Linked DNA regions of Homo sapiens. The protein of the gene in region 4 purifies or fractionates together with the protein of the main gene of each other region. This does not show direct contact. Each region holds a gene or a part of one and is shown on either strand. Other genes may lie near its edges. The genes, in order: RNPC3, FARS2, LARP1, ZCRB1, UTP23, STAU2 and PURA.

Region 1 (4,460 bases), on a different chromosome or scaffold from region 4:
ACAAAGACTTCCAAGAACCTAATGCTGAATTTTCCTAGGGACAGTGATTTAGTGTTTATGGTAACCTTAGAACATAACTTAGAACATAACATACATCGACCATGTTCATGTTTTGACAGATGCTTATTCTTCTGGACTCTACTTACCTCAGAATAATTTCTAGAGTAATTCTTTAGGATTTCATACAAAACTATAATTAGTAACTACTGCAGATGAATTATTCTTTTTATTGATAGTTCTTGACAATCTATGCATTTTATTTAAGGATTCTGACATAGAATAGTACATTGTTAATAATGGTCATGTATATAATCCACAGCCTGGCTCAGAACAGGAATTGCCAAACTGTTTCTTTATAGGTCCAAAGAGTAAATATTTTTGACTTTGAGAGTCATGTGGTCTCTGTTGTGGCTACTCAGTTCTACCCTTGTAGTAGGAAAGCATCCATAGATAGTATACCTAATGAGTTGGTGTGGCCTTATTCCAACTAGACTTTAATTACAAAAACAGGCAGCTAGCTGGATTTGGTCATTGAGCTGTAGTTTGTCAACCCCTGTCTGCAGGACTCTAATGGGAAAATGATCAAAATCTTAGGTGACTGTGCACGGAAGAAGTGGTATATAGGAGGTGTGAGTGGTTGGCATGAGGCAGAACCCAAGCAGACTCTGAGCAACATATACAAATAATCGCAATTTGACTGAGTCAGTGTCCACCCAAGTAGTGGTACAATGTGCAGTATATTATCTTTCTAAGGGAAGAGTTAAAATCAAAGCATAGGTGGGGCTGAAACTATAAAATGGGAGTGAATACACTATCTGTCTTAAAAAGAGACATTTAGGGAAACAGGCAGTGCCTGATAGATGGTTACTTTAACTTGTTGAGTGTTAACTGCGGACTAATTACTTAACCTCTGTGAACTTCACTTTCTTTATAAAAATAATGATAGTAATTAGAAATGCTACAGTAACCTGGCCAAACCCTTTTTTGTTTGTTTACTTAGGTTTCCATTAAAGGATGTAGTGAGGAATTCTGCCAGTAATTCATCTTGAGTCCTGAGAGAGAACATAGCCTTTGAGTGTACCAAGCTCTAGTTTCATGCTTCTCTTTTATCTTCAGGAAATGTAACAAGACCTAAACAAAAGAAAAATGGTACAGGTTGAGTATCTCTAAACTAAATCTGAAATCCAAAATGCTTCAGACTCTGTAATTTTTTGAGTACCAGTATGATACCACATATGGCTGGCTTAGTGACACCTTTGCTTGTTTTCTTTCTTTCTTTTTTCTTTTTAAGACAGGGTCTTACTCTTTCGCCCTAACTGGAGTGCAGTGGTACAGTCATGGCTTACTGCATATTCAACCTCCCGGGCTCAAGCAATCTGCCCGCATCAGTCCCAGTAGCTGGGACTAAAGGCATGTGCTACCACACCTGGTTAATATAATATTTTTCATATTTTTGTAGAGATAGGGTTTCACCATGTTGCACAGGCTGGTCTCAAAATCCTGGGCTCAAGTGACCCGCCCTCCTTGGCCTCCCAAAGTGCTGGGATTATAGGCGTGAGCCACCATGTCCAGCCAACACTTTTGCTTTCTGATGTTTCCATGTACACAAACTTTATTTCATGTACAAAATTATTAAGAATATTGTATAAAATTATCTTCAGTCTTTTGTGTATAAGTTGTATATGAAACTTAAATGAATTTCGTGTTTAAATTTGTGTCTCATCCCCAAGAGATCTCACGTATATGCAAATATTACAAAACTGGTATACTTCTGGTTCCAGCCATTTTGGATAAGGGGTGCTCAACCTGTACTATTCATTTATTCAGCCAATAATTACTGAATATATGCCTAGCACTCTTGTAGAGGCTTGGTGTACTTTGGGTCAGCAATTTATAAATATGGACATATACTTTGAATAACTAAATTTTTTCATAAAGTTTTTGGTAAACCATGGTTTTTTAAAAGGGTTTAAATTACAGCATATGTTTTCATTTTTCCTCAGGGAAAAAAGGTTTAAAGCTTATTTGAACAATGCCCTCCTTCCTCTCTTTTGTATTTTGTTGTGTGTGTATTTTACAAATACCACCCTGAGAAGTAGAGCTGGGACTAGCGGTTTCCAAGTTCCTGCTCTGTAGATGATACAGAAATGCCTAGACAAGATCTATCTTTAATATTAAATATTCATATTCTTAATAGAGAAAAGCTATGTACAGGTGTTGTCACTTCCTGAAACTACTTCAGAGCATAGTACAGTATTTGAAAACAGTTCTCAGGTAATTTAAGTTACCTTATTTATATAATGATTTGCAACAGTTATTCACAAAATGCTTTTAAATGACATATTTCAGTCCAGGCTCCGTTTAATAATTAGAATATGAATAAAAATGATTTAAGAACATTAATATTATATCGATTTTATTATTGTATCTTGTTCAGCCGTTTGGCATGAAGTCCAGCCATTTTATTTCGGCAACTGCTTATGATGAAACATACATTTTAAAAATTGATAATATGTAATTAAGTCTATTTTTAATTTTTTCTAAGTAAGATGAAAGCTAAGCAAGGCAATTTAGTATTTGAGCTTTTATCAAATTGATTATCTCTTAATTGATGGTGTTCTATATATTTGATGTAAGTAAATCATTTTATAATTTAAATTATACACCAAAATACAAATTTAACGTTAATAGAAACAGTGGTAAATAGCTATGCTTCTAGAAAGGAAATTTTGTTTATCATCCCTCTCCTCATTGTAGAATGAACAAATTAATGGAACTAGCAAATCTTCAGCCCAAAAGACCTAAAACAATAAAGCAGCGCCATGTGAGAAAAAAGAGAAAAATAAAGGATATGTTGAATACACCTTTGTGTCCTTCACACAGGTAATTTTATTTGAACTAAGAAATGAGGGTTGTCTGTATGTACTTTGTTTACTTGCTTAATTCACATCATTCTTCATTCTGGCATTTGTTTCCTGTCAGTGTTCTTGGTTTACATTGGCTTCCTAGTTACCAAATTTACAAATATTCATAATTCTCTCACAGTTGACCACTACTCTCTTCTCTGTCGTAAGCCTTAAGGTATTTGCTTCCAGCTTCCTGTCTGCAGACTCAGAATATCTTATAGGCACTTAAGATATTGTCGAAAACAAAATTCATTTACTTTCCTTTTATCATTTCTTTTCTCTTTCTCCTCGTGCATTTACAGTTTTGTTAGTGACATTACTGTCACTAGTGTAATATATTAGTGAATAATGTCACTAATATAAACATCAGTGTGTTTATATACAGTTATTTAGTTTCTCTTAACTCCATCACCTGATATCAAACATTTTTTACTTAAAAAGTACCCAGCAGATAAAAATTCACATATCTTTACTTGGCACACAGGACTAACCCGAGTGCCTTTAAGTATTTATTGAGTGTATGGTAAGGTTTTCTGCTAAATATTGTGTGTAGTTTGAAGCATGCTTTTAAAGTTTAATGCTGTCTTTTCAAACAGTGAGTTAATAGTCTTAAGTATAATAAGCCAAATGCACAGATGATTATTGCATTAGCAATTATAATACATGACATAGGAAATATAAACTAAGAACTAAAAGGTTGTGAGAAAAGAGAGGTCACAGCCAGTTGAGAAATTTGAAAAGGTTGTAAGAGAGAGGAGATATTTGAGCTGGCCCTTTAAGGAGGGGAGACAAAAATTAGGCAGGGAAACTGTATCCTATGTGAGTGGAAGAATAAAAGGAAAGTTTCCAGAGGTAGGAAAATGTATTGAATAGGAATAGAAATGATGAAAGGGAAAGCTAGAAGGATGTGAAACCTCCCCTAAATGTTAGGCGATGGAGTTTGAATTTATTGAAGAAGCCATTGGAATGCCATTGATATTTTTAAAAATTAAGAATTCCTTTTGCACTACTTTATCTTGTAATAAACTTCCTAAATAATTTGCAGATTTGGGATAAGGGTCAGACCGTAGTTATCCAAGAATGTTAGTAGATATACCTTACCTTTCCACTGTGTTTTGGACATTTTGTTATAGTCCAGAAGTTGCCAGTAAAATGATACTTGTTTTATACATGTTTGATTTGGAGTATTTTACCTTTTTTTCCCTTTGAATCTTTATAGTGACACTGAACAGTAGAAATTAATGTGAGCCACATTAAAATTGTATGAAAACATAATGTAAAATATCTTGATAACTTTTTATATTGATTATATGCTGAAATAATATTTTGGATATAATGAGAAATAATACGTTATATTATCAATATTTCATCTGTTTCTTTTCATGGTTTTAATGTGACTATTGACAATTTTAAGTCATCAAAGTCTAATATTATATAGATATGTTTAAAATATCAAACATAGAATGCACTGTTTTGCATATTAATAAATATCCTGGTGTTTAGAATCAAGAGTCATCAAATCCCTTCTCTGTCATTTACAGAATGACCTTATAC
Region 2 (4,460 bases), on a different chromosome or scaffold from region 4:
AAAATAAAACAGATAATTATTCAAGTAGAAGTTTTTAAAAGTCCTCATAAGGTAAAACCAAAAATATATGCATATATACATAGAAAGGTTCAAGATGCAGATGGGCACACACACAAAATCAGTGTGCTTCACTATAACAATAACAAAATACACTCATAAAAATCATACCTGTCCTTAAAGTTGATGATATGGTTTGGCTGTGTCCCCGCCCAAATCTCAACTTCAATTGTATCTCCCAGAATTCCCACATGTTGTGGGAGCAACTCAGGTGGAGGTAATGGAATCACAGGGGCCGGTCTTTCCTGTGCTATTCTCGTGATAGTGATTAAGTCTCACAAGATCTGATGGGTTTATCAGGGGTTTCTGATTTTGCTTCTTCATCATTTTCTCTTGCTGCTGCCATGTAAGAAGTGCCTTTCGCCCACCGCCATGATTCTGAGGCCTCCCCAGCCATGTGGAACTGTACGTCCAATTAAACCTCTTTTTCTTCCCAGTCTGGGGTATATCTTTATCAGCAGCATGAAAATGGACTAATACAGTTGAAAAGGTCTGTACACAAATATAAATAAGTATAACTCCAGAGAGAGATGAGCCCTTCTAGGGTAGACAGACACTGATGGCTGCTGTCGCCACTGGGGCGTGAGTAGGCAGAAGAGCTAGCCTGCTACTGGCAAAGACATTTTGTTGGAATAAGAAGAATGAGCCACACTTGCGTCAGCCAAGCATGGGCTGGCATGGCAGATTGGAAAATGGAGAAACAGAGCTAACCCTCACTGCCAGCCAATTCTCCTTCATAATATTTCTGCTTACAAACGCTGGTGGTGGAAGAAGCTGGTAAGTGGATGGAAAGCAGAAAGAGATCCTGTGATCTCACATGGTTAGATCCCAAACTCTGCTGCAGGGCTAGATCTCACCATCAAGAGGAAAGCAGATGTGAAATTCAACTCAACTCCTGATTAGAACAAAAAGATCTGGCCTAGTCACCTTAGCAGCCAGAAGGTAGAAAGCATAAGACTTTCTGGGGATAAATTTTATCTACCTCAGTCTTTGTCCATTCAAACACAATTAAAAAAAAAACAAAAAGACAAGTGAAGCAGCAGGAAATATGTAAGCCATGATTAGGAAGGGAAAACAACCACAACAAAAGAACACTAGATAATCAAATGGTTGGAATTAACAGACAAGTACTTTAAAATAACCATTATGAGGCCGGGCGCAGTGGTTCATACCTGTAATCCCAGCACTTCGGGAGGCCAAGATGGGCAGATCACCTGAGGTCAGGAGTTTGAGACCAGCCTGGCCAACATGGTGAAACCCTGTATCTACTAAAAATACAAAAGTTAGCCAGGCATGGCAGTGTATGCCTGTAATCCCAGCTACTCGGGAGGCTGAGGTGGGAGAATTGCTTGAATCCAGGAGGCAGAGGTTGCAGTGAGCTGAGATCATGCCATTGCACTCCAGCCTGGGGAACAGAGCAAGTCTCCGTCTCAAAATAAATAAATAAAATAAAATAAAATAAAATAAAATAACCATTATGAATATGTGAAAGAATTTAAGGAAGAATGGATGAAATGGATGAAAAAATCAAGCATTTCAGTAGATAAATGAAAACTCTAAAAAGGAAGCAAATGCAAATTCTAGAATTGATAAATACAGTTATCTGGGGAATGATTAATTCACTGGATGGGCTTAATGGTTACTTGGACAAAACAGGAAAAAAAAAAAGATGAGCAACCCAAAGAGAAGACAATAAAAATTATCAAAAATAAAGCACACAGGAAAAGAAAATCGTTAATTAAAAAAACCTTTCATCAGAGTTCTATGGCATAGGATCAAATGGTCTAACATATATGCAGCTTCATTCTGAAAAATGAATGGAGTAGAATTGTTGGAAAAGATACTAGATGAGGGCTGGGCGCAGTGGCTCACTCCTGTAATCCCAGCACTTCGGGAGGCCAAGGCGGGCGAATCACAAGGTCAGGAGTTTGAGACCAGCCTGGCCAACATGGTGAAACCCCGTCTCTACTAAAAATACACAAAATTAGCTGGGCGTAGTGGTGGGCGCCTGTAATCCCAGCTGCTCAGGAGGCTGAGGCAGGAGAATTGCTTGAACCCAGGAGGCGCAGGTTGCAGTGAGCCAAGATCGCGCACTCCAGCCCAGGCGACAGAGTGAGATTCTGTCTAAAAAAAAAAAAAAAAAAAAGTACAAAATTGGTTCTCTGCTTAGACTAATAATATTGACAAATATCTTTTCTCTTGCATAAAATTTCTGAAGGTTTATGAACCCCTTGTGTGTTTATGGACCTCTATTTAGGAACTTCTTTTTTTTTGAGACAGAGTTTCGCTATTTTTGCCCAGGCTGGAGTGCAATGGCACGATCTCAGCTGACTGCAACCTCTGCCTCCTGGGTTCAAGTGATTCTCCTGCCTCAGTCTCCCAAGTAGCTGGGACTACAGGTGCGTGCCACCATGCCCAGCTAATTTTTGTATTTTTAGTAGAGACAGGGTTTCACCATGTTGACTAGGCTGGTCTCGAACTCTTGACCTCAGGTGATCCACCCGTCTTGGCCTCCCAAAGTGCTGAGATTAAAGGCATGAGCCACCATGCCTGGCCAGAACTTCTTTACAAATTCACATTATTTAAAATTCATGCAGCCATAAAAAAGAATGAGTTCACGTCCTTTGCAGAAACATGGATGAAGCTGGAAACCATCATTCTCAGCAAACTAACAGAGAAACAGAAAACCAGACACCACATGTTCTCACTCATAAGTTGGAGTTGAACAATGAGAACACATGGACACAGGGAGGGGAACATCACACACCGGGGCCTGTTGCGGGGTGGCAGGCAAGGGGAGGCAGAGCATTAGGACAAATACCTAATGCATGTGGGGCTTAAAACCTAGATGACGGGTTGATAGGCACAGCAAACCACCATGGCACACGTATACCTATGCAACAAACCTGCACGTTCTGCACATGTATCCCAGAACTTAAAGTAAAATGAAAATAAAATAAAATAAATAAAATAAAATTCAGTGGCTTTCAAGTACATGATCCTGTCGATCCTTGACAGCCATTTTTATTATTATCTATTCAGTTCTTGCAAGTCATCTTACCTGAAACTTCACCTTCTGATTAATGTTGGATACACAGAACTGCTTCAGGAAGCGCTCGTCCTCACACCAGAAGAGACGGATATCAGGGATGTCGTAGAGGATCATGGCTAGCCTTTCTAATCCTAGGCCAAAAGCCCAGCCGATTCGGTCTTGAGCACCAGCTGTGATTAGGAAACAAAATAGTTGTTTTTAAAAAGTATCGAGATTGGATAGGTTCATACCACTCCCTGACAGTTATCAGTGACACTAATTAGATGCCTACCAGCGGGCAAAGGCACTGGGCAGCCGCTACAAAGACATCCATGAGGGTGCCCAATCTTCCACGCTTTCTCATCTCCATATTCCGGACTGCCCTCATGAACGGATTCTGAAGTCATACTGTCTGGAGTACTGTCTTTCATTTCTGATTACATTCTAGGCTTTCTGAAGCACTGGTTCCTGAACTGAGTTATGATTTTTCTGTAGTCTTTGCTTGCTCTGATTCAAACATTTAGCCCACTGAATATAGGTTACAGAGTGGAAAGAAAAGACGGTCTCTGTCCTTAAGTGTAGTAGATAATGAGATACATTCAAAACATGCCATAGTGGCCATAACATGTTTAGAACGAACTTACATGAAGAAAGTACATACGTCATGCCTTTAAGAACCTCAGTTTTATTAAACACCATAATGCTTATTCTTACCAACAGCCACTTCAGCATTGCAGAGAACACAAGCAGGCCCAGACGAGGGGTATAACTAGCACCACCTACTCCAAAGGTACAGTGTCCTGCTCAGATTGTGTCAGTGCCATAAATTAGAAGGGTTTACTTCACAAACTGAGGCAGTGTAAAAGGGAAGATAGAAACTGCAGAATGAAGGCAGGCAAAGGAGCAGTTCACACTGCAGGAAAGCTTATGAAATGAGCTCATGAAAGGATATAATTCCAACTGGACACTAACAGATGAGTAGGATCCTGTGGTAGGCTGAGATGGCCTCGGAGACTCCCACCCCGCATGCACATGCCTTGTGTAAACTCCTCCCGTTGAGTATGGGTGGGATCTAGGAACACAATGGGAATTTAAGCCTGTGACTGCTTTACTTTTTATCTAGGACTCCATCTTGGCCGATTGGAGAGAGATCCACCTCCTGGCTGTGAAGAGGCCACATGGCTCGGGCCCTTGAGAAGTCCTAAAGGAGCTCAGAGAGGCACCAGCAGCCAGGGAGAAAATGGGAACTTCACTTCTACAGTGGGACGGAACAAATTCTCCCAATAGCTGGAGTGAGCTGATGATAGCACCCCAGCTTCAGAGTACACAGCCCTGCCTCTGCCTTGATTTCAACCTGGTAAGATCCTGATCA
Region 3 (4,460 bases), on a different chromosome or scaffold from region 4:
CAATAAAGCACCCCTATAACTCAGACTGGTATCTAAATACCATTTCCCAAAAGAAAGGAACTAGAATTCCTTTTAAAAGTGGCCAATTCCAGATCTGGGGCAGGAAATGTATAGGGTCCCACTGACCAAAGGTGGGACAATTTGATCCAATCCATTAACTGCAATGGACCAAAATAAATACGTTTGAGCCCATAAGCTTATAATAACAAATGATACGAAAACAAACCACCAAATCTCACTGGTCACCTATGAAACCTATTAGAGATCAACTCATAATTATGCAAACTGGCTAACAAAGGGAGGAAGATCAAACATTAATCTGCCCTTCCTGAACAAACTATACCTCTTGGTAACTGAACAGTTGATGAGGCAAAGTTACTTCTTGAAGAGGTATTCCACCTAATAAATGAAGACCGACTGACAGAATTAGTATATTGTCATTTTGCAATCCTAACGAACACTGCTGGCAGCTTATAGCACAAGAGAGACAATCAAATGAAATGTTATGTGCCACCTGAGAGAAAATACATCATTATGATAAAGTATTCTTGACAAGGAGGGGAAAAAACTTCAAAACCTGAATCTGATCAGGCCTCTAGATCACAATTTACAAAAAACTTGGAGTACAGATGAACATGTTAAAATGACATCCCTGTGCCCTGTGGAAAATCCTACAGGATGTACAACTTAGTCTATTCAAATAATAAACGGCAAAGAAAAAGAAAAATAGAGGCAAGAGGAGACTTAATAAGACAATACACAGGTCTTGTTAGTTTTTTGTAGAGACAGGGTCCTGCTATGTTACCCAGGCTAATCTTGAACTCCTGGGCTCACATGACCCTCCCCTTGGCCTCCCAAAGTGCAGGGATTATAGGTGTGAGCCACTGCACCCAGCCTATAGGTATTATTTGGATTCTGATTCTCACAAACTATATATATATATAAAATATATATATAATATATAAATACATAAAATATATATATAATATATAAATATATAAAATATATATAATATATATACTATATATAAATATATAAAATATATATATAATATATATACTATATATAAATATATAATATATAAATATATAATATATATAAAAATATATATAATATATAAATATATAATATATATAAAAATATATAATATATAAATATATAATATGTATAAAAATATATATAATATATAAATATATAATATATAAATATAAATATATAATAAATATATAATATATAAATATATATAAATGTATATTTTATATATAAATGTATATAAAATATATATAAATATATATAAAATATATATATAAATATATATATGGCGCCAATTGGGATGAATCTGAACTAAATATTTGATGATATTAAGGAACTGTTAATATGTTAAACTGTTAATTTAGGTATGATAATGATACTGTGGCTATTTTCTTTTAACAAGTCTATCTTTTAGAAATCTATACTGAAATATTTGTGAACAAAATGCTAGGTTTTCTAGGATTTTCTTCAATGTAGTATGTGAGAATAAACAGATGAGGGTACAGATGGAATAAGATTAGCCATAAACTGATACCTGCCGAAGCTGATGATGGGCTCATTATACTACTCTACTTTTGTTAAGTGTCTGACATTTTCCATAATGAGCAAGAGAGGGAGAGAAAGGAAGGAAGGAGGGAGAGGAGGAGACTAGCCAAGCCTTGAGACTTCAGCAGAAGTCATCAGATGATGACTCTTCCAGGGCTTTCTGCCTTGGCCCAAACTCCAGCTCCCTAAGGACCTTTCTTTCCCCTGCATCCCAGCTCCAGGGAGGAAGACATACCGCAAAGATGAGTGAAATGTCAGTGGTAAGGGCCTGCACTCGGTGGAAGGAAGCAATAAGGGTGATGGGTAGGAAACCATCAGCATCCATTTTCCTTCGCAGGAAGAAGTCTCGCTCTAAATTGTCCACGCTGAAGTAGTATTCACTAAGTGGAGGGAAGAAGTAGTTATCACCGAGGGATTGGTGCATCAGTTTTATGAGTATGCCTTCCTTGTTCTGCTACACACCCCAGCAATCTCACACAGCCTCTGACCTACCCCATCCTTATCCTATATACCAACAGTGTTGAGGGCTGAAAAGAAATGATGTGATCCCTTCATGACACCCTACCTTGCTTGGGTCAAATCACTCCCTCTGCCCTAAGCCCCTCGACATGCCTGTCAAACTCCTCATCCTCCTTTAAATTCCAGTCCAAATATTGTTGGTCACTTTCTCTTCTGCTCCTAAAACACTTATAAACACTCTATTGCAACCATTTATTTTCTTGTATGACTTCCTTACTGGACTGAGAGACAATATATCAGAGTGGTTAAGAACAAAGGTTCTATAATAGGACAGAAAAGGATTTAAATCTGTGCTTTGTTACTTACTAGCTGTGAGATTCTGTGCAAATTACTGGGCCGGTTTGCTTGTCTATAAACTGGGGCTAAAAGACTCAGCTCATAGGAATTCAACAGATAAGAACTGCAGGACTAAGATAATGCCTCTACAACAATAAACACTGAGCCTGGCCGATACTAAGGATTCAATAAATGTTAGTATTCTGTCAATGTTGTCATTACAAATGGAAGAACAGAAGGGGGTAGATTCTAAATATTTTCCTTCCTTTTTGTAATGGTATAGTTTCTAACTTTCTTAAGGTAAATGTTGTACCACTTCTGTAATAAACAATGAGAATGTGGTATCACTTCTTTAATAAACAATGAGAAAAGCTATCTTTTCAGCCTGAGGCTGAAACTGCTGCTAAGCACCAGAAGGGCCTGCCCAGCTATGACACTCTAGCAACCCCTAACCTCTCACTCATTTCTCCAGGGTAAGAAGGCTTCCGCACACTCACATCTGGCGCTTGATGTAGTCTTTGAGCAGTTCCTGATCCACACTGTAAAGCTCGGTGCTGCTGACATTGTCAAAGTAGTAGGTGATGTTGTTCATGTACTTGGGCGTACGAGGCCCCTCCACACCATCAAACTTTCGGTAGCCAAACTGGTAGTCAAAATGGGCTATGGGGGAAACGGGTGCCATGAGGGAGAGGAGATTCCTGCCCACCACCCCTGCTGCACACCCTTGGACATCCCGGAGCCCAAAGGGGCCTCACGTACTTCGAGTGCCACCCCGGCCGCGTCCCCGGCCGCGACCACGCCCCCGTCCACGGCCACGGAAGGAAGCCCGCGCCCCACCAGCCCCATCACTCTTCACACTCGATGTCTCATCCTGGTCGTGCCAGGCAGGCTCCGGTTTGATCTCTGGTTGCCAGGCTGGGGTGGGGGGGGCCACGGGCACGTAGGTGGCAGACTCAGACCCTATGGGGAGAGGGGTACCAGGTCAGGCCTGAGGGTGTCTCCCAAGTCCAGGCCCTCCATAGTGGGTAGTGCATACCTTTGATCTCTCCGCGATTGGCAGGTATGTGTCTAGGCTCCGGTGGGCGAGTGGGGCGTGAAGCCAGTTTCTCTCTGGGCACTTCAGGCTTCATGTCTATTTGTAATGGAACCCACTTGTGTTTGTTTCCTGGGAGACAGCATGGGTACATGAGAAAGGCTTGAGGGAGAGGCCACTCCTAGCCAGCTCTACCCAACTCCTCTTCTTCTGCCCTGGACTTGGGCCCAAATCACAATCTGGTTACCTTGGGCAGATCCCTTTCCCACACATTAGCCCTCTTTTTCATCTCTAAAATAAGCTGGTCAGTGGCCGTCAGTGTGTTAGAGACTCCTCGTTAACTCCCAAGATCAGTGTCTCCATGGCCACAGAATCCCCTTCTGGAGTCAGACACATGGCAGCCCAGGATGAAGACCATGCTTTCCAGAGTCCCTATAGACAGGTGCCAAAACACTGCCTACGAGAGCTAAGCTGAAGTAACCAACTCCAGGTTGAGTCCCTAAAAGGAAAGGGGCCACCCTTCCCTCTTCCTTTCCTCCTAGCTAGAAGAAGAAGGAAATAGGAAGCCATCAGTGATGATATGAAGAACCGGTGTACCACAGCAAGCTGAAGGGATTCAGGAGTTGCCATACCAGGCCTGGTGTATTTACACCAAGCTGTTACATCAAAGAAAGAAAGTTTTATCTTGTTTAAACCATGGTTACTCTAGATCAGCATTAGAGAAGCCAAAATTTCAGCAGGTTTTTTGAAAGGAGGGACTGATTAATGACAGATGGTTGAAGACTGCTATCTCACCAGCCTACATCCATCAGTTTCCCCATTGACTTTTCAGAGGTGGCACCTAAAGCTCCTCCAGCAGTCCCCTGGAGTCCTGACATTTCACAGTTCTACCCTGCCACCTTCTCCCAAGTCCTGCTCCCAGTCACTCACCTTTCTTCTTCTGCCCGCCTCGCTGGCAATCCTCATCTCCATTCTTTTCCTCCCCTGATTCATCTGATTTGGTTTTTGGACTCTCCTTACTATCACTCCCTTCTCCTTTCTCCTGTTCCTTCAT
Region 4 (3,215 bases):
TGCTAGGATTACAGGCGTGAGCCACCGCGCCCGACCAAACTGTTTTATATCTTGAATTTTGAGATTTAAATGTTTGAAAGAAGACTACTACCACTACTCTTAGTAAAACTACTAAATAGTCCTAAATGTTAAAATAACTGAGAGTTATAATATCACCTTCTAAATATTAAAGTACTGGGTTTTATCATTAATGTCTTCTGTATAGTCCCAGTATGGGAATATTCCTTTTTAAATTTGAAAACTTTTTAGTAATAAGGTACCAGGCAAGTTTTTATAAATAACATCAAATATGGTATTTTTCCTTTCCTTTTTAATGGGAAACAAAAGGAAAGTGGACACTTAAGTTATGCCTGTCCGAAAAATATGCTCGGAGAACGTGAGCCTCCAAAGAAGAAAGAAAAAAAGAAAAAAAAGAAAGCTCCTGAACCAGAAGAAGAAATGTATGTATATTATTCTTACTAAATACATCATCATGTTGCTTTTGTCTTTTGGTTGGTTGCTTTTGATTATTGGTTGGTTACATTCCAATTTGTTTTTCTTTATTTAAGTGAGGAAGTAGAAGAAAGTGAAGATGAAGGGGAGGATCCTGCTCTTGACAGCCTCAGTCAGGCCATAGCATTCCAGGTATTAAATTGTTCTTTTAAAAGGCATCATACAATAGTTGACTTGGTTTATAGTGCTTGCTTACTTCATTGATCACCTCATGGCAACCTCTCTTTTTCCCCCTAACCTCCTAAGCCTTAGGAGACAAGCTGTTTCTCTGAGGTACTTAGCCAGTGTGAATGAAAAGTTCCCATTGGTTCTTCCTAGATTTTAAGGGCCCCACAACACTTACTATCTTAATCTTTTTTCATTAAAGAAATGAGCAGAACTATTTGCTCAAAGTGAATATAGCCCAACAGAAAAGATTTTTTTAAGAAATTGCCTAGGATAATTTTGTGTAAGATTTTGAGATGAGACAGAACTCAGGGGAAGGGAGCAGATCTTATTGTCTGCATGGACTGGGAGGGTGGGAAGTAATGGCATTTGTGGTATGTTTTTGCCATGTTTTGAATTAATGAACCATAAATAATATTAAACAGGTTATTGGTTTTGTTTTGTTTTTTGAATCACAGCAAGCCAAAATTGAAGAAGAACAAAAAAAATGGAAACCCAGTTCAGGAGTCCCCTCAACATCAGATGATTCAAGACGCCCAAGGATAAAGAAAAGCACATATTTCAGTGATGAGGAAGAACTTAGTGATTAAAATCTTGCCCCAGCACAGTAATAAAAATCAAGATTTGTTAGTAACAATCTTGAAGAGCTAATTTTAATAAAAATAAGAAAAATTAATACTATCATGTTAATACTATTATTGTCATCCCAAGAAAAAAGATATTTTAAAAATTTATTTGAAAAGTTCATTATAAGGGCTTTATTCATGCCTGATTTGTTTACATGAGGACTTCTGAAATTAATCCTTAAAACAAACTTCCTGAAGACCGAAAAGTTGAATGATTTATTGTTACTTATATTAATAAACTTTTCAAGAGAATTTTGTCTTTAAATATGGGTGTTTTGTCATCATATTTCTTGTAGCTTTATCCCAATCTGGATAAATTGTAAATACCTATAAAATAAATTATAAATACCTATAAAATATAAAGTAACATAGCTCTAAAAGGCTTAAAATCAAACACAGGTGTTATTTGTCTGCCCTACCCATAGCACCAAATTCCATTCCCTAGAAGAAACTACTTACATGTGCACACATGTAGCTAAATAAAGTACATATATTTCAGTCACTTAATAAAAGAATAAAGGAGAATTATTCAATCTCTTATACTTCTCCTACCTTCCTCAATATTCCCAATGTGGCTGTATTAAAAATTTGGGGGAATCCATATATATCTTTTTTAATAACCAAGTAAATACTTTTCATTTCTGAGCCAAGGAATATGCTATGATTACGTTTTTTCCTAGAGTTAATAATTGTCTATTTTTTTTCCATGTATTGTCTTTGTATTTATGACTAAATCTTCCCATTCTGTCTGCAGGTGGGTATATGGTAATGGGATTAGAGAGCCTTTAATTTTCTGCTTTGTATATTTCTATATTGTTTAACTTTGTAAGAATGCCCATTACTTTTTTAACTAGTAAAAGCAATAGAAATAAGTTAATACTATCATAGTAATATTATTATTGTCATCCCAAGAAAAAATATATTAAAAAGATATTTGAAATTTCATTATAAAATCTTGTGTTTCCACTTTGAAAACTACAAAGTGTTAACCACCCACCAGCAAAGAATCTTCCAGATTGCAACAAGACAATGATTGAATGCAGTACTCAACCATCTGTTTGGCCATTAGTCAAATACCACAACAGTTTTGGTTTGTTTTTTTTTTTTAATTTTTATTCATTTATTTATTTTTGAAACGAAGTCTCACTCTGTCGTCCAGGCTGGAGTACAGTGGTGCGATCTCAGCTCACTGCAACCTCCACCTCCCCGGTTCAGACCATTTTCCTGCCTCAGCCTCCTAAGTAGCTGGGATTACAGGCACGTGCCACCACACCCAGCTAATTTTTGTATTTTTTTAGTAGAGTTGGGGGTTTCACCATGTTGGTCAGGCTAGTCTCAAACTCCTGACCTTGTGATCCACCCGCCTCGGCCTCCCAAAGTGCTGGGATTACAGGCATGAGCCACTGTGCCCGGCCTACCATTTTAAAGCAAATAATTGGGAAAAGATTTGCCACAAATATATAAAAGTTTCTATGAATACCTGAAAACAGACTCTAATAGGAAATAAATTAGTGACAAATAGAATAGTTAGAAGATAAAATAGGCCAGGTGTAGTGGCTCATACCTGTAATCCCAACACGTTGGGAGGTCAAGACAGGAGGAGTGTTCGAGGCCAGGAGTTTGAGCCCAGCCTGGGGAACATAAGGAGACTGTCTTTACAAAAAATAACATTAGCCACTCACACCTGTTGTCCTAGCTACTTGGGAGGCTGAGGCGGGACAGCCTGGGAAACAGCATGATCCTGTCTTTAAAAAAAAAAAGTAAAAAAGTTTATCATTACTTATTAAGGAAATCTATTACAACCAGTGATACATCAATTTTAACCTAATTAGGAAAAAAACACTTCAGTGTTGGTGAGGATGGCATTAAAAGCACTTGTGGTATCGCATACATGCCCTGGATCAATTCTGAAGGGTAATTTAACAATAAATA
Region 5 (3,790 bases), on a different chromosome or scaffold from region 4:
CTGTCTCACATTTAACCATTAAGAATTTACTCATACGTCATCATGATAACCTAATGTTAGACTGAGAATCACTGCTCTAGTGTGGCTCCAGAAGCTGTCAGTCAGGAACTACTGATACGATTTCACTTGTCCAATAATTTTATACTTCCATCTTGTAGTACAAAAACATTTTAATTTTGGCCTGATAAATGACTAAAACAATTGCCGGGGGAATTCAGAGAGACACGTTTCATTATTCAATTCCTAACTGAATTGACCCTCATTGATCCTCAGACTAATTTAGACACTTTTCAATAACATTCACAGTCAATCTCAAAGAGAATATTATTTTTGAATTCTTGCTATTGAAGTTAACATTTACATCTAAAAGAAAATCATCATCCTTATTGGACAAGTAGAACTCAAACAAACAAACAAAAAAACTCTAGTCATAATAATGAAAATACTGAGTTTCTGATGTACAAAGAGTAAAATATTCATATACTGGAAAAATGGTGCAGTATAAATGGGCAAAATTTCACTCTTTCTAGTAGGAAGTCAATAAATAATTGATGTATCAAAAAGTAGCGGTATAATCATACAATTTGGAAATATAAATTCTTCAACTACTAGAATTGAAAGAGGAAGTTTCTTCTGTCAATGTGAAAGAGGGACTGCCTCTTTTTTTGTCACAAGCCTTTTAGAACTGTAAGATTTTTTAAAACTGTTTGCATATAATGTTTGAAGGTGGGAATGGGACCAGAGAGGCGACAATTTTACCTGGAGAAACAACCTCCCGAAACCATTTAGTAAGTAAAGTGAATTCCATCACACCTACACCCATTCACTGTTTTTATTTTTTTTTTGAGACATGTTCTCACTCTGTTGCCCAGGCTGGAGTGAAGTGACACGAACTGGGCTCACTGCAATCTCTGCCTCCCAGGTTCAAGCGATTCTCATGCCTCAGCCTCCTGAGTAGCTGGAATTACAACTGTGCACCATCATGCCCAGCTAATTTTTGTATTTTAGTAGAGATGGGGTTTTGCCATGCTGGCTAGACTGGTCACTGTTTTTATTTTATAATTAATTTTAGCTAAAGCATATGGGTTCATTTACAAAAATAAGTTTGGTCTTTTATTATAAATACTTCTAGTTGTAAAAAATTCATTTTCACATTTGAATGTCCTTGAAAGTATCCAAAGGATTCATTCTCCTTCTGCATTCTGCTTCTCAGAAAGTACTTTTGGGTTAGATCTGTTCCGAATTCTTTTTCTTTTTCTTTTCTTTTCAGAAGCAGATGATTGTGTGTCCGGTGCCTTTTTCTTTTTCTTCAAACAACTAAGAGGATTGGGACCACTTATTTTCTTGCGCTTTTTTCTTCTACTCTGTTCAGTGTTTTTCACTAAACCCTGTTCCTCTTTGAGATGTTTGATACTTTCTTTCTCATGCACTGAGACAAGCTGACCTGACTCCACTGCTTTTACAAAGGCAATTGTTTTGGGAGAAGGTTTGTCCAAAACCATAGTGTTCTGAATAATAAACATGAGAGGAACTCCAGGCTTCTTTTTTACTTTCACAGACAAATTCTGATCCTATTTAAAAGAAAACAGAATTATTTAGTTCAAATGTCAATTAAGGTACCTTAAATAGGTTTTCAAGAACTGTATTAAAAATAAAAGAGATCACAGATTTTATTTTTCAAATGAGTAAGCCTCACTTATTCATTTGAGTAATGGGGGTATATTTCATGATAAAGGAAGAAAAACATAAAAACTGAGCACAGTGTTAGTAGCAGCTGTGTGAACCGGATTTATCGATACTCTAGAGCCACAAATTACAAACTAATGCAAAGGTAAATGTGTTAGGTGGGTTTCTCCTGTTTCCACTCTAAGATATTCTTTGGAAAGGGTCAAGAATGCTTAAAGAGGTTAAAGGAAAAGAAACTGGGTAGTAATTAGCTACTCAGATTCTAAATTCAGCTCTACCTCTGTGTAATTTTATAATTCTGATAATCAAATCTGTATGTATGTGAACTTAATATCACCCCCAAAAGTCTCTCTTCTCCTGCCTTCAAGAAGATGGGAATATTTTTCTTCAAAAGCCTGAAATATTTCATACTGTTGGTACAGTCTTAAGCAGTATGAACCATGACTTTGAGAAACAGTATGAAATACAGGAACATGAAAAAAATTAACAGAATACAGGCACTTTGCTCTACTTATCTTCCCTTCAAGAACCCTACAACAAATCATCACATCTCATGTCAACAATTTCTTGTTTTAAAAAAAGAAACTTCTGCCAGTGTCCAGCATGATGGCAAACACCTGTAATCCCAGGTACTCAGGAGCTGAGGTGGAAGGATCACTTTAGCCTAGGGGTTCGAGACCAGCCTAGGCAATATAGTGAGACCCTCAAGTCTCAAGAAACAAACAAAAAAAGCAAAACAAAGGAATCATTAAAAAAAACAAAACCCAACCTTCCACTACTAAAAAGAATATCAACATGCTTAAAGTTTTCCTCAAATTCTCAAATGACAATTGCTTTTACTGACTGCAAATTAACTTAGAAGCCTGTATTTTTAAAAGTCTAATCATTCTAACTTTTTTCTGATTATAAATAGCTCCATATGAAGTATAAATAGAAATGGTGAAAATTGCCTGTGGTTTTAAAAGTAGTATCACCTGTGTTGCCACAAAATAATGATGAGGATTTCCCTCTTCAACCATGGAAAGCAGACATTCTGATCCACTCACTGCATTCTTGAAATGAGGACAATTTCGAACTTGGCATTTTTGTGCAATCAGTTTTGCCCCATATAAGTCCTTTCCCAATGTTTCTAGCTCTTTTAACACACATCTGAAAAGAAAAATTATAGCAGATACATTTCACTTGTTTACATAAGGTGTAAAAAACAATAGTCGATTTTTTCTTAAAATAAAACTATGCTGTTACAATCTAAATTTGTCATCTGGTAACCATTTACTTTAAAAGATCACTTGAAAAATGCATTTACCAAGTAGGAAGAACAACAGTTAAAATTAACTGAGCACTTATTATGTTCCATGTAGTATGCAAATTGCTCTTTACATAAATTCTTGATTAATCTCAAAGTAACCCTATGAAGTTAGGTCGCTTACCTTGAAATTATCCTTATTTTAGAGCACCCCATTCTGAGATTTCAAGTAACATGCCAAAGTTCAAGTAACTAGCAAGTGGTACCGAGACTTGCAGTTTGACAACAGCTCCCTTGTCCCAACCATAGCGTAATAAGCTTCTGCTTCAAGTACAAATTGGTATACTTTCAAAACATTTTCAATTCAGAACAGTAAAACTTCTCACATCATCAAGTTGTTTTTAAAAAAACATTTAGTCATAAGAGTTCCTCAACCCTAGCCAGCATTTGCCAGATTCTTTCTTGCTTCATCTCCTTTATCATCTTTCTGTTTCAAGAAGATTTTGCTTGCTTTAGTCATTAGACTTGACCTCTATTTTGAGTACTGCCAGCCTGTGGATGTCCTGCTATCAACTCTTCAAATTCACCATGTCTAAGATCAAACCACTTTCCTGTATCCAAATTTATCCTCCAAGACTTGCTATCTCTTTGAAATTACTATTTTCCCAGACACCCTAGATAGAAATCAGAAATCACATTTGACCTTCCTGCCCTTCTTCACCCATACTCCTATGCCATCAGCTGCTCAACCTATCTATCTCAGTAACGTAGCGTTTCTTTGGAGAACCCTTGGGTTCCTGCCTTTCCTCTCCCAGGTTTAGGCTCCCCTTACTTCTTGATTAAACAACCGCAAAACAG
Region 6 (4,460 bases), on a different chromosome or scaffold from region 4:
TGGGAGCTGTGTGGCCATCTCCCTGGATACTGTTATAGGTCGAATTGTGCTCTTCCCCCAAATTCATATGTTGAAGTCCTAACCCCCAGTATCTCAGAATGGGGCCTTATAGAATGTGGCCTTATTTAAAAATAGGATTAGTACAGATGTAATTAGTTAAGATGAGGTCATACTGGAGTAGGGTAGGTCCCTGATCCAATATAACTGGTATCCTTATAAAAAGAGGAAACTGGAACACAGACCCACACAGGGAGAACGCCACGTGAAGATGGTGGTAGGGGCTGGAGTGATGCCGCAGCAGCCAAGGAACACCAAAGATTGCCAGCAAAGCACTCGAAGTGAGGAGAGGGGCCTGGGACAGATTCTCCCTCACAGCCTTCAGAAGGAACCAGCCCTGCCAGCACCTTGATCTTGAACTTCTAGCCTCCAGAACTGTGAGACAATACACTCCTGTTGATGAAGCCACTCAGTTGGTAGTACTTTACTACAGCAGCTCCAGCAAACTGTACAGGGACCTCATAGCTTCTCTTTAAGGATAGCAAAATCTCTCTCTCTCTCTCTCTTCTCTCTCTCTCCCTGTATTATTTTTTGTTATAAAAATAGTTTTTTGTTACAGAAAAGTCAGAATATATAGACAAGCAAAAAGAATGTAAAAAGTATCCACAATCCTGCTCACCATTCACATCTTGGCGCACGTCTTTCCATATCACTTGTTTTTTTTCTCTCTTTTTTTTTGAGATGGAGTCTTACTCTGTCACCCAGGCTGGAGTGCAGTGGTGTGATCTTGACTCACTGCAACCTCCACTTCCTGGGTTCAAGCAATTCTTGCACCTCAGCCTCCTGAGTAGTTGGGATTACAGGCATGAGCCACCACACCCAGCTAATGTTTGTACTTTTAGTAGAGACAGGGTTGCACCATGTTGGCCAGGCTGGTCTTGAACTCCTAGCCTCAAGTGATCCACCTGCCCCAGCCTCCCAAAGTATTGGGATTACAGGCATGCGCCTCTGCCCCCAGCCTCCATATCACTTAGTATCCTCTCCCCATGTCTACAAACTGTAGCCTGGATCATGTCTTAACACTGTAGGTAACCTGCTTTTTTTTTTTTCAATGATAAATAATAATTGTACACATTCATGGGGTGGGTAACAATGTTGCAATACACATAATGCATAGTGATCAGATCAAGGTAATTAGTACATCAATCATCTCAAACATTTATCATTTCTTTTTGTTGGGTTCATACAATATTCTCCTTCTAGCTGCTTGAAACTATAGAACATATTACTGTTAACTATAGTCTTTCTACAGTGGTATAGAGCAATAGAACTTATTCCTCATATCTAGCTATAATTTTGTATCCTTTAATAAATTTCTCCCTATCCCTCTCTTCCCCCTACCCTTCCCAACCTCTAATATCCTCTGTTCTACTTTTTACTTCTGTAAGATCAACCTTTTTAGCTTCCACACATGAGCAAGAACAAGTGGTGTTTAACTTTCTGTGCCCTGCTCATTTCACTTCACATTCGCCCAGTTTCATCCACATGGCCATAAATGACAGGATTTCATTCTTTTTTTACGGCCGAGTAGTATTCCATTGTATACATATACCATGGTTTTTTGTCCGTTCATCTGTTGTGTGCTCTTTTCATTGAATGTGTGCAGTATCAACAGAAACATTTCGGTAGCATCATTTCTCATGACTGCACAGTATCCTATCGATATCCTGTGTGATACCAACACTGCATCAAATTTCCTATTGGTTCAATCTTTATGCATCATCTCAATACTTTCCTTATGATAAATTCCTAAAATTGCATTTCTGAGCCAAAGATGATGTCCATTTTTAAAGATTTTTTTTTTTTTTTTTTTGAGACAGAGTTTTGCTCTTGTTGCCCAGGCTGGAGTGCAATGGCGTGAACTCGGCCCACCACAACCTCTGCCTCCCGGGTTCAAGCGATTCTCCTGCCTCAGCCTCCCGAGTAGCTGGGATTACAGGCATGCACCACCACGCCAGATTACTTTTGTGTTTTTAGTAGAGATGGGGTTTCTCCATGTTGGTCAGGCTGGTCTCGAACTCCCGACCTCAGGTGACCCGCCTGCCTCAGCCTCCCAAAGTGCTAGGATTACATGCGTGAGCCACTGTGCCCAGCCTTAAAGATGTTAATATGAGCTCTCTATCCACCCTTGGAGAGGTTGTGCCGGCAGCAGCAGTGGGAGGAGGGTGTTACTCTAGGTGCTTCTGGAATTACCTCTCAGAACCATTTTGTGGGTCAGAGAAGCAAACCAGTTTTGTCATCTTTTGGCCCCACCTTATTTTAATGTGTTCATCCTGGTTGTTGACCTTCTTCACTAGACTTGGCTTTGTCTGAAGTTTTGCTGTTTTCAAAAATTAAACTCACCCTCAAAAGACTGAGGTTTGGACAGTTCTCCCCACCCTCCCTGCAAGAAAGGAATTCACAGAGGAATTTGACTCTCAGGGAGCTTTGATTCAGTGACTCTGAGGTCCTTTTAAGTCCTGAAGTGCTAAGGCGGCTATGCTGAGGGCAGTGCATGTGCCCACAGCCTGTGTCCATCAACCGGGGCCCACTGTCCCACCTCACACATGCGCGTGGGGCGCTAAAGGCCAGGCTCACTCACTTGTAGGCTCCAAGGACCAATCCATGCCAGACCTTTTTCCAGATATTCCCATTTTCACGGAGTGGGCTCATGAACTTCAAGTTCTTTGTATATTCAACAGTTTTAACAAAAGACCAGTTACTTTTCTTCTGAGCCATTAAAATGTGAATTATTGGCATAAATTCTGAAATTTATGAATTTCTTCCAAAGTGGACAATTACATTTGAAATTTTATTATTTTTTGTAACATAATGATAAATTATTTAACATTTTCTGTGATGACAACACCTGAAATATACTCTCAGAGCAATATCAAAATGTGCAGTACTCAACTGTTAGCTATATTCACCACACTGTGCAGTAGATGTCCAAAAAAATCAAACTTATCCTTTTTATCTGACTGAGACTTTGTACCCTTTGACTATCATTTTCCCATTCCACCTACCCCCAGCCTCTGTACCCACCACTGTACTCTCTGCTTCTGGGAGTTCAATTGTTTTATATCTCACATATAAATGAGAACATGTGGGATTTGTCTATGTTTGGCATATTTCACTTAGCATAATGTTCTCCAATTCTATCCATGTTGTTGCAAATGACATAATTTCTTCCTTTTTAAAAGCTGAACATATTCCATTGTGTCTATATACCACATTTTCTTTTTCCATTCATCCATTAATGGACATTTAGGTTGATCCCACATCTTTGCTATTGTGAATACTGTTGCAATAAACATGAGGGTGCAGATATCTCTTGACACACAAATTTCAAACTTTTTAGGTAAATACCCAGATGTGACAGTGCTGGATCCCAAAAGCACCATCACAGAGGGCTACTGAGAGCCAGGAAATGGAACTGTGCAATGTGATACTGCTGAATGGGGTTCCTACGAGCTCTAGGGCTTCTCGGTCCTGTTTTATTCCTAGCAAGGGCAAAACAACAACTAAAAACAATTTTTAAAAATCTTTTAAAAAATCGTTTTTAGGCTACTTATAGCCTGTTTTCACTAGGTACACTGGGAATACTTGGTTCTTAGTGTGGCCTGAACACCAGAACCAAATGACCTGCTTCACCCAGTCCAGGACCCATGGCACCTGCTCTCTTCCATCTGAAGAGAACTGCATATATGAGACGAAGGCCAGGTCTCAGGGAGCAGCTTCAGCGTTTTAGCTCTTGCAAAATCTCCTGGACGATTTTATCAACATGCCAGGCAGGTCCCCCGTGCACTGTCAAAATGATCGTCATCCCTCCAAGAATGTCCTAGAGTCTGGAATGGCGGCGTGCTCTCTCACTTGATGCCACGAATGGATTTTCAGAATTCTTGCGTGGCTGCTCTCCTCCACAGGTATGCTTAAAAGCTTCCAAGGGGCAGTCCCTTATCTACCTGATCAGATAACTCAACCCACATCTCACTGATAACCCTGAATACAATAGCTTATAAGTATGAGAGGGATTTCTTTTCAATTTATAAGAGGCAGTGGTGACCGATTTATCTTAACCTATGTAAACAGTAATAGCTACCATTCGATGAGCATCACTCCGCCATTGTCATGGGACTGGCCCTTTACCTGCCATGACCTGAGTTGTTATCACAGCCTTGTGAGATAGTTCCTACCCATAAGGAAACAGAGGCTCAGAGAATTCAGTAACCTACTTAAGGTCACACAGCTAATAAGTGGCAGAGCAGAGATTTGAAACCAATCTATATTCTTGCTCAGGTCTTTTTTTTTTTTTTTTTTTTTTTTTTTTTTTTTTTTTGAGGCAAAGTCTCACTCTGTTGCTCACGCTGGAGTGCAGTGGTGTGATCATGGCTCGCTGCAGCCTAGACCTCCCAAGCTCGAGT
Region 7 (4,460 bases), on a different chromosome or scaffold from region 4:
TAACTTATGATTTTGAGTAAAGGATTATCTAGAATCAAATATACACTTATTAATCTTCATTTCCCAAAATTGGTCCATATTTAGACAACTACCTGGCACAATTTCACTAGATAAACCTAAAATCTGAACAATGGAAGTTAAACTTCTACCCAAAGTAAAAACAAAGCCATAAGATTCCACAATTGAATTGGCCACAAACATTCACACTATGTTATAAAGGACTTTCTCATTTCAAATACATCACTGAATGTTCAACAGAATTTGCAAACATAAGATCCAGAATGACTAGCAAAACATGCTAAGAGCATGTCAAAAAGTAAAACACCACCTCTCCCCCCCCAATCTGGAAACACACTCAGGCATTCCAAAAATAAACCAGATCTGAAAAGAGGCCTCTCACTTGGTTTTAAGTATGAGGTGTGTACAAAGCTATGGGAAAGGGAATATAAAATGAAATAACCAAATAACTTACAAAAAATAATTTTAGCCAAAAACACATCTCTCTGTTCCATTGATAAAACTATCAATTTTTAAATTTTTTTGCAATTCTGAACACTGTGTTGCATAATATCACCAAGACAAAAAATATGTTCACAGGTACACTTTTTGTTATTTTCTTTCTAGAGCACATCTTTGAGGTCATAAGACCGCATCTGGTTAAAATAAAGTCTCTTGCCCTTGCTTCCCTTCCCCCTCAAAGTGATTCAACCCTGAATTCCAAAAAGGAATATTCAATATAACAACTTGAAAACCAGTTGTAACACTTAGACCATAAGGAAACTATATGAACATTATGGAAAACTACATGAAAGAGGGAGCTGCCACTTGCCACCCACTTCACTTCCAGCTTTTTAAGCATGTACCCAGCTAGACTCCTATCTCACTGACTTCAGTGAAACAAACTAACACACCAAATCTAGGCCATCTCAGGCTGGAAGTTAAAACTCGAAGACATCATTTCATATACACATACATATATATTCCCTATCCTAAGCTTTAACTTTGTCTATTTAAACAGTTTAATAAAGCTCACATTTACAAAGGATTTTATTGGCAAATAAAGGCCCATATTAAAAATTTTATCAGAACAAATTTTTGTTTTATACAGCTAACATTAAGAAATATTTTCTTGGCCTTATAAAATATTTTTAATTGCATATAATTTTTGCTTTGGGTGGAATATTGAAAACACAATTCTGCAAGAAATTAGAAAAGACTAGAAACAAAAGTGAAAGTGACTAGCCTTAACTTTCAAAAAATCAAGTGCAAAGATAAATAGTGCAAATAATGAAAACTAGAAATTTTACAGGCAACTTTAGTCTTTCCTGCTTTTGCACTTTTACACATTGACAACTTTATAAACCCTAACAACTATATGCAGCATGGAAATGGGCTATCATTTATCTCCACTGACTAGACTTAAGCCTTTCAAGGACTTGTCTCACAGTCATTTAAATCACAAGTTCTTGACACAGGTTTGGGAATTCACTTCTTTTTAAACAAATTTCTAAGGGAGGGGCTATTTAAGAAGGCTTTGCATTGACTTAAATGAGTTATAGTATATAACTATTATAATTTAAAATCTGACACAATAAAATGTGAAAATTATACTAAAGTGCCAACTCTACAAAATAAGCTATAGTAAAAATAATCCTGCTATTGTTAATGAACCTGACATTCGTAAAAAAGAAAAATTACCTTCAAAGTACAAAATCAGAACCACTTTTTTGCTATTTTTAAAAGAGATTTTTATCACTAATATATAGAGATGTGAGTAAAATGAAACTTCAAAGTAATCTGTCCAAATCACCAGGAATAAATCCATACTAAATTTGACAACAAAGAGTTAATCCAAACATACTTGAATTATGTAACTTAAAAACAAACATTACAGTAATTATTTATCTTAAATAATTTAAAACACTACTGGAATAATGGGAACAGAAATCTAAACACTATCAGCTTACCCTACAAAGGATATAAGAACCTCCAAAATGTACTAACTTATTTTATTAACATTTGCCACCACTGAACTCTTGGGAATACTACAATTTTAAAGTAAGAGAGAAAGTAGGGAAACAGAAACATGAGTTTGGGGGGTATGTTGTCTAATTTTAGAAATACAGTATTATTGAGGGCCTCATAAGGTCTACAAGGTTAAATGGTTGCTACGGATGCAAATGTAAAAGAAATAAAAAAGACACCTAAAATTGCAAGTTAGTGTTTTTACCTGGTTTATTGTCTTCTAAGAAATTTGTGTGGGCCAAAGTCTCAAAATTCTATAAAAGCAAGGAATAATATGTGTCTTTGTGGAGTACAAAATCAAATAATTTGATCTAAGGACCATTTGAAAAGTAAAGGTAAACTACATTGTAACAAGAGCCCAAGAAAATAGATAGTATGTGTGATAAATATTTCTGATAGTTTAAAAAGAATAATGGTGAAAAGCTTGAAATTTTCTTTTCCTCAAAATAATAACTCCCCAGCATCCACTTGCCTTGACCAGAAAAGCTGTCATTCCACAATTGTGCTAATTTGTCCCAGAAAAGCAGACATCCTATACATGAAAACAGACTTGTATAATGCATGATCATTATCATAACTCTAGCTATAGTAACTAACAGCTTTCTCATAATCAATGAGGGACCCATTTTCTCTGGCTTTATTGAAACTTCCTTAGTGAAGATCAACTTCATTTCCTTAGCAAATAACTCTCATTCGGACTCCATCATAGTACCTTTTCCTACCTCTAGTAAAAATTCCTCTCACTTTATTTCCAAACCATTCTCTATATACCTCTCAAACCCCCATCCACAAACACATTAAACAGCTCTCCTCGTCCTACTCTCCAATTTCCAAACCAGTAAGTCTCAGTTCCCAGTAACTTACCTAAAATACACATACTTCTTACTCTCTTCAGTTCACAAGTTTCTTAACATTAATTTAGATACCTTCAAACTGCCAGCTTAAGACTATGGGGAAAATAGCAATCAGAAAAAAACTGCCCAGTTACCTCATAATACTGAAATTGTTCTGGATCATCAGTTAGCTATGTTCTAAGGCAGGAGTCAGAAATTTCTTTACTTCTCTCTGAAGAAGTAAGCTTGAGTGCCACTGGTAGGCCTACAGCAAGAGTAAAAGTGGAGAGAGAAACAAAGAAAAAGGATAGGAGAGAGAAGATGCCAGATGTACATGGTAAGGAGGTAGGTCAAGTACCACCACCAACTACCTGCATTTAAAATTGCCAATCCACTCCAGCTGAATGGGAGTTTGACCCAAACTCAACATGTGTCTGATAAGTCATTAGCTGATGGCTATCATTGTTTGAGCTAGTCAAGATGAATAGGTAATTCACCTGTCCCATAACTTTAACTGCCACTTCACGATAAGGACATATTTTCTTAAATCCTCCTAGGATCCTTCTGTGTTAATAATCTACCTTAGACCAAAACACACACTAACAAGAGTATTTCCATGTTTTTCACAATTCTAAAATAGAAGGACTTGGTCCTTGAACTTGGAGGCCTCTTGAATTATTAAAGTGGAACCAAAATCAAGAAAATTAAACTCTTTAGCTTAAACATTTTTCCATCTAATGCTACAAAATAAGCTAATTGCTAATAATTATCAAAACAATGTGTGTATTTATGAAAACATGAAAATCCTGTGATTCCAAAATGAGTGAAATACTTCTGATGTGTAAGAAGCAACTATATTTTACATAGAGGATCACCACCATGTTTCTGCCTATCAACAGGACAATCTTCCACAAAAGCAAAGGACATCAGGAAGGAAAAACACAAAACAAAACAAATACCAAACGTGGGGACAAAATAAAAATGAATGAGTAGTTATGACATTCTTGTTAAGAAAAATGTTAACAAGTGACCTTTGCCACACTCAGCTTTCCTAAAGACATAAATTGCCTGGACCATTCAACATCAAAACTTGGTAGTTAGCTTAGCAGATTCATTGGCTTGAAACCAATCATTATTTCTTATTTCATCTGGTTGTTCTTTTATCATGAAATTCTACCTGACTCATGCTAATTCTGGCTTATTTTCACTTAGCCTGTAATGAAATTTCTGTTCAAAAAGGACGTGTCAAATGGCCTATACCTTAAATTTAGGTTTTCAGGATCAAATAACTTCTTAAATATTAATATTAAAATCAGCTTTTCTTAATATATCACAAAATCTGCAAAGAAGATTCTATAATAATTCGTGAATAGCAGTGATCACTTTAGTTTTATAGCATACTTATGAATGGCCAAAATTTGGTTAATATGCAATGAAGAAAACAGAAATATTGTGATTTAAAAATTGATACACTTTAACAAATCTACACAAATAACTTTGGTGAATTTATCTATGTAAGCAATTCCAATAAATTATCTCTCCTACTTATTCCACTCTCAAGGAGATGTGTGTATCTATATACATATACACACACACAATGTA

Evidence for each region.
Region 1: the proteins of ZCRB1 (region 4) and RNPC3 purify together in Homo sapiens (affinity purification with mass spectrometry; 2 studies listed by BioGRID and IntAct, with this or other methods). This does not show direct contact.
Region 2: the proteins of ZCRB1 (region 4) and FARS2 purify together in Homo sapiens (co-immunoprecipitation; 3 studies listed by BioGRID and IntAct, with this or other methods). This does not show direct contact.
Region 3: the proteins of ZCRB1 (region 4) and LARP1 purify together in Homo sapiens (affinity purification with mass spectrometry; 2 studies listed by BioGRID and IntAct, with this or other methods). This does not show direct contact.
Region 5: the proteins of ZCRB1 (region 4) and UTP23 purify together in Homo sapiens (co-immunoprecipitation; 3 studies listed by BioGRID and IntAct, with this or other methods). This does not show direct contact.
Region 6: the proteins of ZCRB1 (region 4) and STAU2 purify together in Homo sapiens (affinity purification with mass spectrometry; 2 studies listed by BioGRID and IntAct, with this or other methods). This does not show direct contact.
Region 7: the proteins of ZCRB1 (region 4) and PURA purify together in Homo sapiens (affinity purification with mass spectrometry; 2 studies listed by BioGRID and IntAct, with this or other methods). This does not show direct contact.

The regions. Positions count from the first base shown.
Region 1 is NC_000001.11:103,538,593-103,543,052, forward strand, and holds part of RNPC3 (RNA-binding region-containing protein 3), read left to right. Parts: intron 1-2,757; coding exon 2,758-2,883; intron 2,884-4,460. UniProt on the Homo sapiens protein: Participates in pre-mRNA U12-dependent splicing, performed by the minor spliceosome which removes U12-type introns. U12-type introns comprises less than 1% of all non-coding sequences. Binds to the 3'-stem-loop of m(7)G-capped U12 snRNA.
Region 2 is NC_000006.12:5,543,999-5,548,458, reverse strand, and holds part of FARS2 (phenylalanine--tRNA ligase, mitochondrial), read right to left. Parts: intron 3,280-4,460; coding exon 3,119-3,279; intron 1-3,118. UniProt on the Homo sapiens protein: Is responsible for the charging of tRNA(Phe) with phenylalanine in mitochondrial translation.
Region 3 is NC_000005.10:154,792,673-154,797,132, reverse strand, and holds part of LARP1 (la-related protein 1), read right to left. Parts: coding exon 4,337-4,460; intron 3,539-4,336; coding exon 3,410-3,538; intron 3,334-3,409; coding exon 3,133-3,333; intron 3,034-3,132; coding exon 2,871-3,033; intron 1,959-2,870; coding exon 1,814-1,958; intron 1-1,813. UniProt on the Homo sapiens protein: RNA-binding protein that regulates the translation of specific target mRNA species downstream of the mTORC1 complex, in function of growth signals and nutrient availability.
Region 4 is NC_000012.12:42,311,099-42,314,313, reverse strand, and holds the end of ZCRB1 (zinc finger CCHC-type and RNA-binding motif-containing protein 1), read left to right. Parts: intron 1-327; coding exon 328-440; intron 441-548; coding exon 549-624; intron 625-1,115; coding exon 1,116-1,247; 3' UTR 1,248-2,228; downstream 2,229-3,215.
Region 5 is NC_000008.11:116,769,237-116,773,026, reverse strand, and holds part of UTP23 (rRNA-processing protein UTP23 homolog), read right to left. Parts: intron 2,836-3,790; coding exon 2,661-2,835; intron 1,572-2,660; coding exon 1,185-1,571; 3' UTR 1-1,184. UniProt on the Homo sapiens protein: Involved in rRNA-processing and ribosome biogenesis.
Region 6 is NC_000008.11:73,425,076-73,429,535, forward strand, and holds part of STAU2 (double-stranded RNA-binding protein Staufen homolog 2), read right to left. Parts: intron 1-4,460. UniProt on the Homo sapiens protein: RNA-binding protein required for the microtubule-dependent transport of neuronal RNA from the cell body to the dendrite.
Region 7 is NC_000005.10:140,120,237-140,124,696, reverse strand, and holds part of PURA (transcriptional activator protein Pur-alpha), read right to left. Parts: 3' UTR 1-4,460. UniProt on the Homo sapiens protein: This is a probable transcription activator that specifically binds the purine-rich single strand of the PUR element located upstream of the MYC gene. May play a role in the initiation of DNA replication and in recombination.